Linked DNA regions of Homo sapiens. The protein of the gene in region 2 purifies or fractionates together with the protein of the main gene of each other region. This does not show direct contact. Each region holds a gene or a part of one and is shown on either strand. Other genes may lie near its edges.

The links.
Region 1: the proteins of NUP188 (region 2) and HEATR6 fractionate together in Homo sapiens (co-fractionation; one large-scale study listed by BioGRID). This does not show direct contact.

The regions. Positions count from the first base shown.
Region 1 is NC_000017.11:60,072,103-60,075,921, forward strand, and holds part of HEATR6 (HEAT repeat-containing protein 6), read right to left. Parts: intron 1,785-3,819; coding exon 1,644-1,784; intron 1,178-1,643; coding exon 1,062-1,177; intron 228-1,061; coding exon 113-227; intron 1-112. UniProt on the Homo sapiens protein: Amplification-dependent oncogene.
Region 2 is NC_000009.12:128,992,450-128,996,268, forward strand, and holds part of NUP188 (nucleoporin NUP188), read left to right. Parts: intron 1-747; coding exon 748-954; intron 955-1,075; coding exon 1,076-1,245; exon of another isoform or gene 1,246-1,585; intron 1,586-1,923; coding exon 1,924-1,993; intron 1,994-2,406; coding exon 2,407-2,474; intron 2,475-2,869; coding exon 2,870-3,065; intron 3,066-3,819. UniProt on the Homo sapiens protein: Component of the nuclear pore complex (NPC), a complex required for the trafficking across the nuclear envelope. Required for proper protein transport into the nucleus.

The DNA.
Region 1 (3,819 bases), on a different chromosome or scaffold from region 2:
TGTATTTCTCTAGACGAAGCTAATGGTGCAAATTAAACTCGTTAGTAACACTTTTCCAATCTGCTTCTAGACACATCCGCAACATTCACTACGTCAATGATAGTCCACTTACCATGCAAAATGTGATATCATCCATATCAGATGATTTTGGAGACTGTAAAATAGTCAGAAAAGCTTGGAAACAGACATTTTGGTAGGGCTCCTCCAAATACGGCTGTCCTGGCACACTAAACGCATACAGAGAAAACAACTCAAACTCAGTCTCCTTTAAAATGAGGCTTGCAAAAGACTAATTAAAAATAGCAGTAATATAGACTATTAGAGTTGGAATATACCCTTGAGTGCAACTATGCTATGGAAAATTATTATTTTGGTTAATTAGTTACTGCTGGGGGACAGGCACAGGGCTAGAATGAATATAGAGGAAGGGTGGTTTCCATACAGAAAGGTTACAGAAGTTTGTGGTAGAAGAACTATGGAGAAAGAAAAATCTTGTTTTAGTTCTGCTGTTCAGTCCTAGGAGGGAAATAATCCAGACAGGTCCTGTCAAGCTAGAATCACACATCTGTACCTGCCTTCCTACTCGCTGGACAGCACTGTGCTATGCAGAGACGAGTTCACATTTGTGCTGCTCATTGTCTACTGCCTACTGTGAGAATCGAGGGTGAGCAGCTGGGGCTGTTTCCATCTTCTTCAAAGAAAAGAAATTGCCCTTTACAGATACATCTCACCAGCACTTAAAATTTGCATGAATATATCCTTCTAAAAACTTAATATGCTTAGAATTTATATCAATAGAAAACAAAATTTTGACATACTGCACATTATGTCACTATTACCACATTTTAGGAATATGGTCCTAGTCTATTTTTTCCTTCTTTACAAGCAATACTAAAATTAACAAACAACATAAGATGATTTTATTAGTAAAGTACATGGGAAATGCAAAGTTAGTTATTTGTCTAAGTTGGCTCTGGCTTCAGGCACAGGGAACTACCTACAAAGGGCCCAATAGAGGCACTATCTTATTACCATTGAGAAACTTGACTGGAGCCACATACCTGAGACATAAGTTTGCCATACAATGTACTGCAGCTCTCCTGACTTCAGGATCAGACTGAGCCAAGTCACTCAACTTCATTAAGAGTCCGGTGTTGCCTAGCAGCTCTGGGAGGTACTAAGAAAAATAAGAGTCAATGTAGGTCAAAGAAAAGCTTCTAGGAAAATATTATGTTTTAGACAGATTTCTTCTTTCTTTTTTTAACTAAATGGCAGTTAAGCACCAAAAGACTAGCTGTTAGATAAATGTCTCCGATGGATATGCAAAGATATGCCAAAAAGCATCAATAATGATCATTACTCCCAGCCTAGGTAGCTGCTGATGCTCTTTAGTGTGGCCGTATGGCTGATGGGTAATGATAATATTAAGAATAATGTTTACTATTTACCGAGGGCCATGAACTTGACACGTATTGTCTCACTTCATCCTCAGAGTAACTATTTTATACATGAGGAAACAAGGCCCAGAGTGGTTGAATAAGAATTGCTAGAGATTAGTGGCAAGATAGAAACCTGAACACAGTGTTGGCACCAGAGTCTGTGCTCCTGGCCTTTCAAAGGAAGGATAAAGCACTTTAAACTACCTTTTGACATTTGGAGCCATTGCAGTACACCAGAGCTGCCAGGGCTTGAAGAATTTCCCTGTGTGTCCAGGAACTACACTGATGAATAGCCGAAATAGTATATGCCAACAGGAAATCCAAGTGCTGTTCATCAACAATTACCTAACAGGACAGGAAAAGATATATTCTGATCTAACTTTTAAAAAATATTATGCTTTTATGGACATGTATGCTCACCTGAATCAAGCTGTATAAAAGAGAGAGTGTGTGTCTGTCGTTTATGTGTCAAAAGGATCACCTCTAAAGGGCCTGAAAGTTTGATCAACGTAGGGGCCTTCTCCCCACCCCAAGGTCTTGCTCACTTCTTCCTCTTTAGTAAAGTAGAACTTGATGAAGTCCTTGTAACTTTTCCTTGAACTAACCAGACATTGGCAGCTGTGAATACACAGATATGAGTATTTCAACGCACTGAAATTTAATTAAACTGCCTTATACATAATAAACACTCAATGAATACACAGTGAACCAATATAACTGCTAAATACCTACTGCATCTCTAACATGACATGAGGAATACACCATGAAGAGAGGGCATATCCCTGCTGTCAAGGAGCTGATAATCTTGTTGGGACAGACCAGGCTAATCCAAGTGTCAATTTATGGACAATTGAGACAAACTGTCACCAAGTGCTGGAAAGCTGGTAAAGGGTTATAGGTGCCACAGGTGATCAGGAACATCTCCAATTGCCAGTGTTACAAAGATGATACACCTGAGAATAGTAAACATACAGAAGCTACCTCATGTTAGTTTCAAAGATTCTAAACTGAAAACAGCCTTACTCCATGCAGCAGACACTGTTGGTTACCTACTAGCATCCATTTCTTCCTTCCCTGCTGGCAGAGTACTAATTTAATTGGATGTCCACCTCTCCCATGTGAGACCTAAGGGTAAACGCTAATTAGTTTAAGAGAGTGGGGCAACCTGGGGCAACCTTAACCCCCAAGGAACATTTGGCAATGCCTGTATACATTTTTGACTGTCACAATTGGAGAGGTGCTACTGGCGTCTAGTGGGTAGAGGCCAAGGATGCTGCTAAACATTCCACAATGTGCAAGACAGCCCCTAAAACAATGATCTGAGCCAAAATATCAATAGTGCTGAGGTTGAGAAACCCTGATGTAGGCTAACTGTGGCTGCACATTGTAAGCATCAAGGGAGCTTAAGTCCTCCTCCAAGTGATTCTAATGTGTAGTGAAGGTTGAAACTACTAGCTGGAGCCATTCACAATAAGACCATCCTCCTGCTTAAAGACTGGTTTAGAGAGGTATTTATATGACCTAAGTCTCTCCAGCAAGATATTGGGGAGTCTACTAGAGAGTTCATGGGACACGTTTCCTTACTGTTAAGTACAAGAGACACAACATAAAATAAAGTTAATTAGCTTCTGCTGAACAGTAATCATTTCTTTGGCATGGGATGTCCAGAATTGGCACAGCCATCTTATGACTGTGAGACATGCTAGCTGAGGATAACCCACATGCTGAGGACGGTGAAGGGAAAGATGAGCCTCTTATTATTAAGGGGCTACAGATGCGTCCCTTGGGACTTGGGACATGGAGTGATTCCTTTTTATTTTTTTAAAAATTGTTTAGTGACTCTGGGATGGCTTTTCTGCTTATTGCAGCCAAAAGCATCCTAATTCACATAATGCTAGTTGATATGTTTTGTGCTCTTAAATATATTCACATACTCATGTGGTAACAGTCTTAAATAAATAACTGGGGTCTTTTTATCCTGCTGTCCCCTTGGCCCCAAGCTACTTCTTATATTTTAGAAGCATCAAAAGTAGACCATAAAAATGGTAGCTTCAGGAAAGGGGAAAAATATTGGTGGGAAAGAGGCAGGGGATTATTTCAATTTATTCTTAGATATATTTTGTTCAAATATATCTTCCATAAGAAATTATAAATTAGCCGGACGTGGTGGCGGGTGCCTGTAGTCCCAGCTACTTGGGAGGCTGAGGCAGAAGAATGGTGTAAACTCGGGAGGCGGAGCTTGCTGTGAGCTGAGATCGCGCCACACTCCAGCCTGGGCAACAGTGTGAAACTCTGTCTCAAAAAAAAAAAAAAAAAAGAAATTATAAGGTTGGGGGGCCTGAATGATATTGGTTTACTGAACCAAACAGAAAGGCATACT
Region 2 (3,819 bases):
CTCCCAACATGCTGGGATTACAGGCGTGAGCCACTGTGCCTGGCCCCTGGTACTGTTTTATGACTGGCTTCCTTTACTTGATACCATATCAGGCAGTCTTGATGTGCTTCATGCCACATAGGCACATTTGGACTTCCTTCATTCTTTTTTGTCTTTTTTCCTTTTTTTAATTTGGACTTCCTTCATTCTTTTTAATGTTTGCATATCACATCCTAGAATGGATGCATCCTGATTTATTTGCGCTACTTTCTGTCTTTCACTATTACAAGCAGTGCTGCAGTGAACATTATTATCCCTACCACCCTGTAAACATTTGTTTACAGTTCCAAAGATTTATGTAGGTATAAATGAACATGATATTTTTTATTAGATATTTCCAAATTACCTTCCAAAAAACATTGTAACAGTTTATACTTATAACACCAAGTATTCTATCGTTGCTGCAAGGTCTTCATCATTGTTTAGTCTTTGCCAATCTAATAAGCAAAAAAATGTTTCACTTTTCAGTTTGTATTTATTTAACCATGAGGGAAGTTGAGCATTTCTTTATACTGATTACTGTCTTTCCTGTGAATTTGCGGGCATCTCATGCTTGTTTGTGGTGATGTCCCTTTTAGCCCAGAGCTGTAGTCTGGATGCTTCCCTTTCTGCCAATTTTCTGGGAGCTCTTCAGTGCCCTTCTGTGGGAGCCCATTGAGGTTTTTGTGGAAGCAGAGCTCTAAGCCTGTGTGTTCCGGTCTCCACCAGGTGGCCCCAATGTCAGTGTATGCTTGTCTGGGCAATGATGCGGCTGCCATTCGTGATGCCTTCCTGACCCGATTGCAGAGCAAAATTGAGGACATGCGCATCAAAGTCATGATTCTAGAGTTCCTCACTGTTGCAGTAGAGACCCAGCCAGGCCTCATCGAACTGTTTCTGAACCTGGAAGTTAAGGATGGCAGTGATGGCTCAAAGGTAAGCCTGTAACCTGGGATGACACTGGGAGTTGGCTCACTGGGAGGCAGATGCTGGGCTCTGCAAGTACAGCTGCTGGCAGTGGCTGTGGAACTGAACTCTTACCTGTCCCTTCTTGCAGGAATTCAGCCTTGGGATGTGGAGCTGTCTCCATGCAGTGCTGGAGCTGATTGATTCCCAACAGCAAGATCGATACTGGTGCCCACCCCTGCTGCATCGTGCCGCCATTGCCTTTTTGCATGCTCTGTGGCAGGATCGGAGGGACAGTGCCATGCTGGTCCTCCGAACCAAGTAAGTCTGCCTCTGGGAGTAGTTTCATTGTTCTGGTCTATAAAATGGGAGTAATAATAGCTCTTATCCCAGAGGTTTGTTGTGACAGTTCACTGGGAATAAGAGTGCTTAGTCCTGGTTCAATACCTGGGAGTTTTACACTAATTCTCTTTCTAATGCTGCTGCAAGTATTAAGGATCTTTAAATATTAAGCACCTGGAAGGTTCAGTTGCTTTTGTGTTCCTGCCTTTTGCTAACTAGCTGCATCAAAACTCATTATTCTTGAGAAACAGTAGATTCAGGAGAGAGGCGCTTGCTCAAGTCACTGGATTGAATGAAACATTCCGTTCTATTGGACCTGCTGGCACAAAGGGAAGGAGTGTTAAAAGGCTAAATTTGGGAGTCTGCTGTCTTATTTCCCTCCCTCCTCTTCTGTGGGGCTTTTGGGAATCTACAGTGGAAGGAATCTTGAAGAGTTTTTATTGATCAACTCTATAATGCATAAGTGTGATTCATGAGAGGAAAATGTAATTTTATCTATGGAAACCTTTCATTTATACGGGAACAACTGACTTATCAGACACATATTAGGATTGAGACTGGTAAAATATGAAGTGACCACCAAAGGGAGCTTGAGAGAGGAGAAAATGACTGTGAGAGGGAAAAAGTTATGATTTCAAACATTTATTTCCTTTTTAGACCCAAGTTTTGGGAAAATTTAACCAGTCCGCTGTTTGGAACCCTTTCTCCTCCCTCTGAAACATCAGAGGTAAGCTGTGGCAGAGGGCAGGATGGTGGCTACAAGTCCCTTGGAGGAAAGGCTGTGGGCTGTGAGATGGGGCCGTAGACAATGATACCTCCCCTAATTAAACAACAGAATGTTCCCTTCACTAGAAACGTCTTTCTCAGGGAAGTGCCAGCTTTCTGTCCCTTTGATGTCTTGCTTTGGGAAGGAAAGTGGTTTGCGCTACTGTGTGTTGGTGGCTCTGTGGTCTTCTCCATTCAGTTGGAGACGTTGTGGACCTGACGCCTCTGCTCTTGCAAGTCAGGACATTCACATTCAACAGGGGTTGTGCTAACTTGTTCTGCAAGTGTTGGGCCCCTGCTCTGTTCCCTGTTTGATATACTGGGGGAGATCAGTGATCAGAGATGTGATAATTGCCTGTTCTGCTATCTCCACAGCCCAGCATCCTGGAAACCTGTGCCCTAATCATGAAGATAATTTGCTTGGAGATATACTATGTAGTAAAGTGAGTACTTTCCCCTCTTGAGATTTTAACTGAAGGTTGGGGGAGTGGGAGTTGGTGGCCTACCACTGGGTGCATGGCTGGAAGAGCCAAGGCAGAGGAGAGAACTGGTTTGGAACCATTCATGGAAGGCCAGTGAGCTGTGTTCCTGGCCAATCCACCGATGGCATTTATGATTGTCAGAAAGAGTTATTGTGAAGCAAACTCCATGCAACTGGGATTTTATGGAGGAGGAATCCTGGAAAGGCCTCAGCCTAACCCACACGTTGGAGGTGTCCTGGAGCCGTCTGCCTTTAAGCCCATGCAAGGTCGTTTTCTCTGCCTCAACAAGGGTCTGTACCCATTATATTCCCATCTGCTTTCAAAATCTAACTGGAGGTTTTTTCTTGACACTGTAGGGGTTCATTAGACCAGTCATTAAAGGATACACTGAAGAAATTTTCCATCGAGAAACGCTTTGCCTACTGGTCAGGGTATGTCAAGTCATTGGCAGTTCACGTGGCCGAAACAGAAGGCAGCAGCTGCACCTCCTTGTTAGAGTACCAGATGCTGGTGTCCGCCTGGAGGATGCTTCTCATCATTGCCACCACTCATGTAAGACCCTTTTGGGGAGAGTTTTCACTTTGGTACCTTAGCAATGATGTGTTGACATGAGCCTAGCAGATACAGCTCCTTGTGCGGAAGAATTAATCAGGGTTTATCCCTGAGAGCTAAACTGTAATAGGTTCTATGCTGAGAGATTGGGACTGTGGGGTATTTGAGGGTGTTGGGTCCAGGAGACCATTAAGAGGAATGCAGAGAAGTGATTTGAAATCCTTTCAGAGTTCCTAAAGCCTCCTGTACCTCCCTTAGGCCTTGGCTGGGTCTTAGCTGCTCCCTGGCTGCATCTGCCTCTTGTGCAAAGGCATAACTGTCTTCTCGTGCTGTGTACCTTGTAGATGCTAGGTCAATAAATACTTGTTGACTAGTCAGCAGGGAGCTGTGACAGCTGCAGCAGCACCCTCTCTAAAAAGCAGTTTGTCATTGGTTCTAGAAACTGCATTTCCTGGTCTTAGAAAAAGAACAGAGGCCATTGTCTCTGTACTCTGTCTACTGGGAGTTGGTTTTGAGAGAGAGAGATAACATCTGGAAGAAATGCATTGTTCTTGGCTTTTTTGTGGTTTGACTCCGTCACGCTGTATCATAAGGACTTGGTATTGAAGTGTTCTTTCTTGGGGTATCCAGATTAATTTTTTTTTTTTTTTCTTGAGACGGAGTCTTGCTCCGTCACCCAGGCTGGAATGCAGTGGTGCGATCTTGGCTTACTGCAACCTCCGCCTTCCGGGTTCAAGGAATTCTCCTGTCTCAG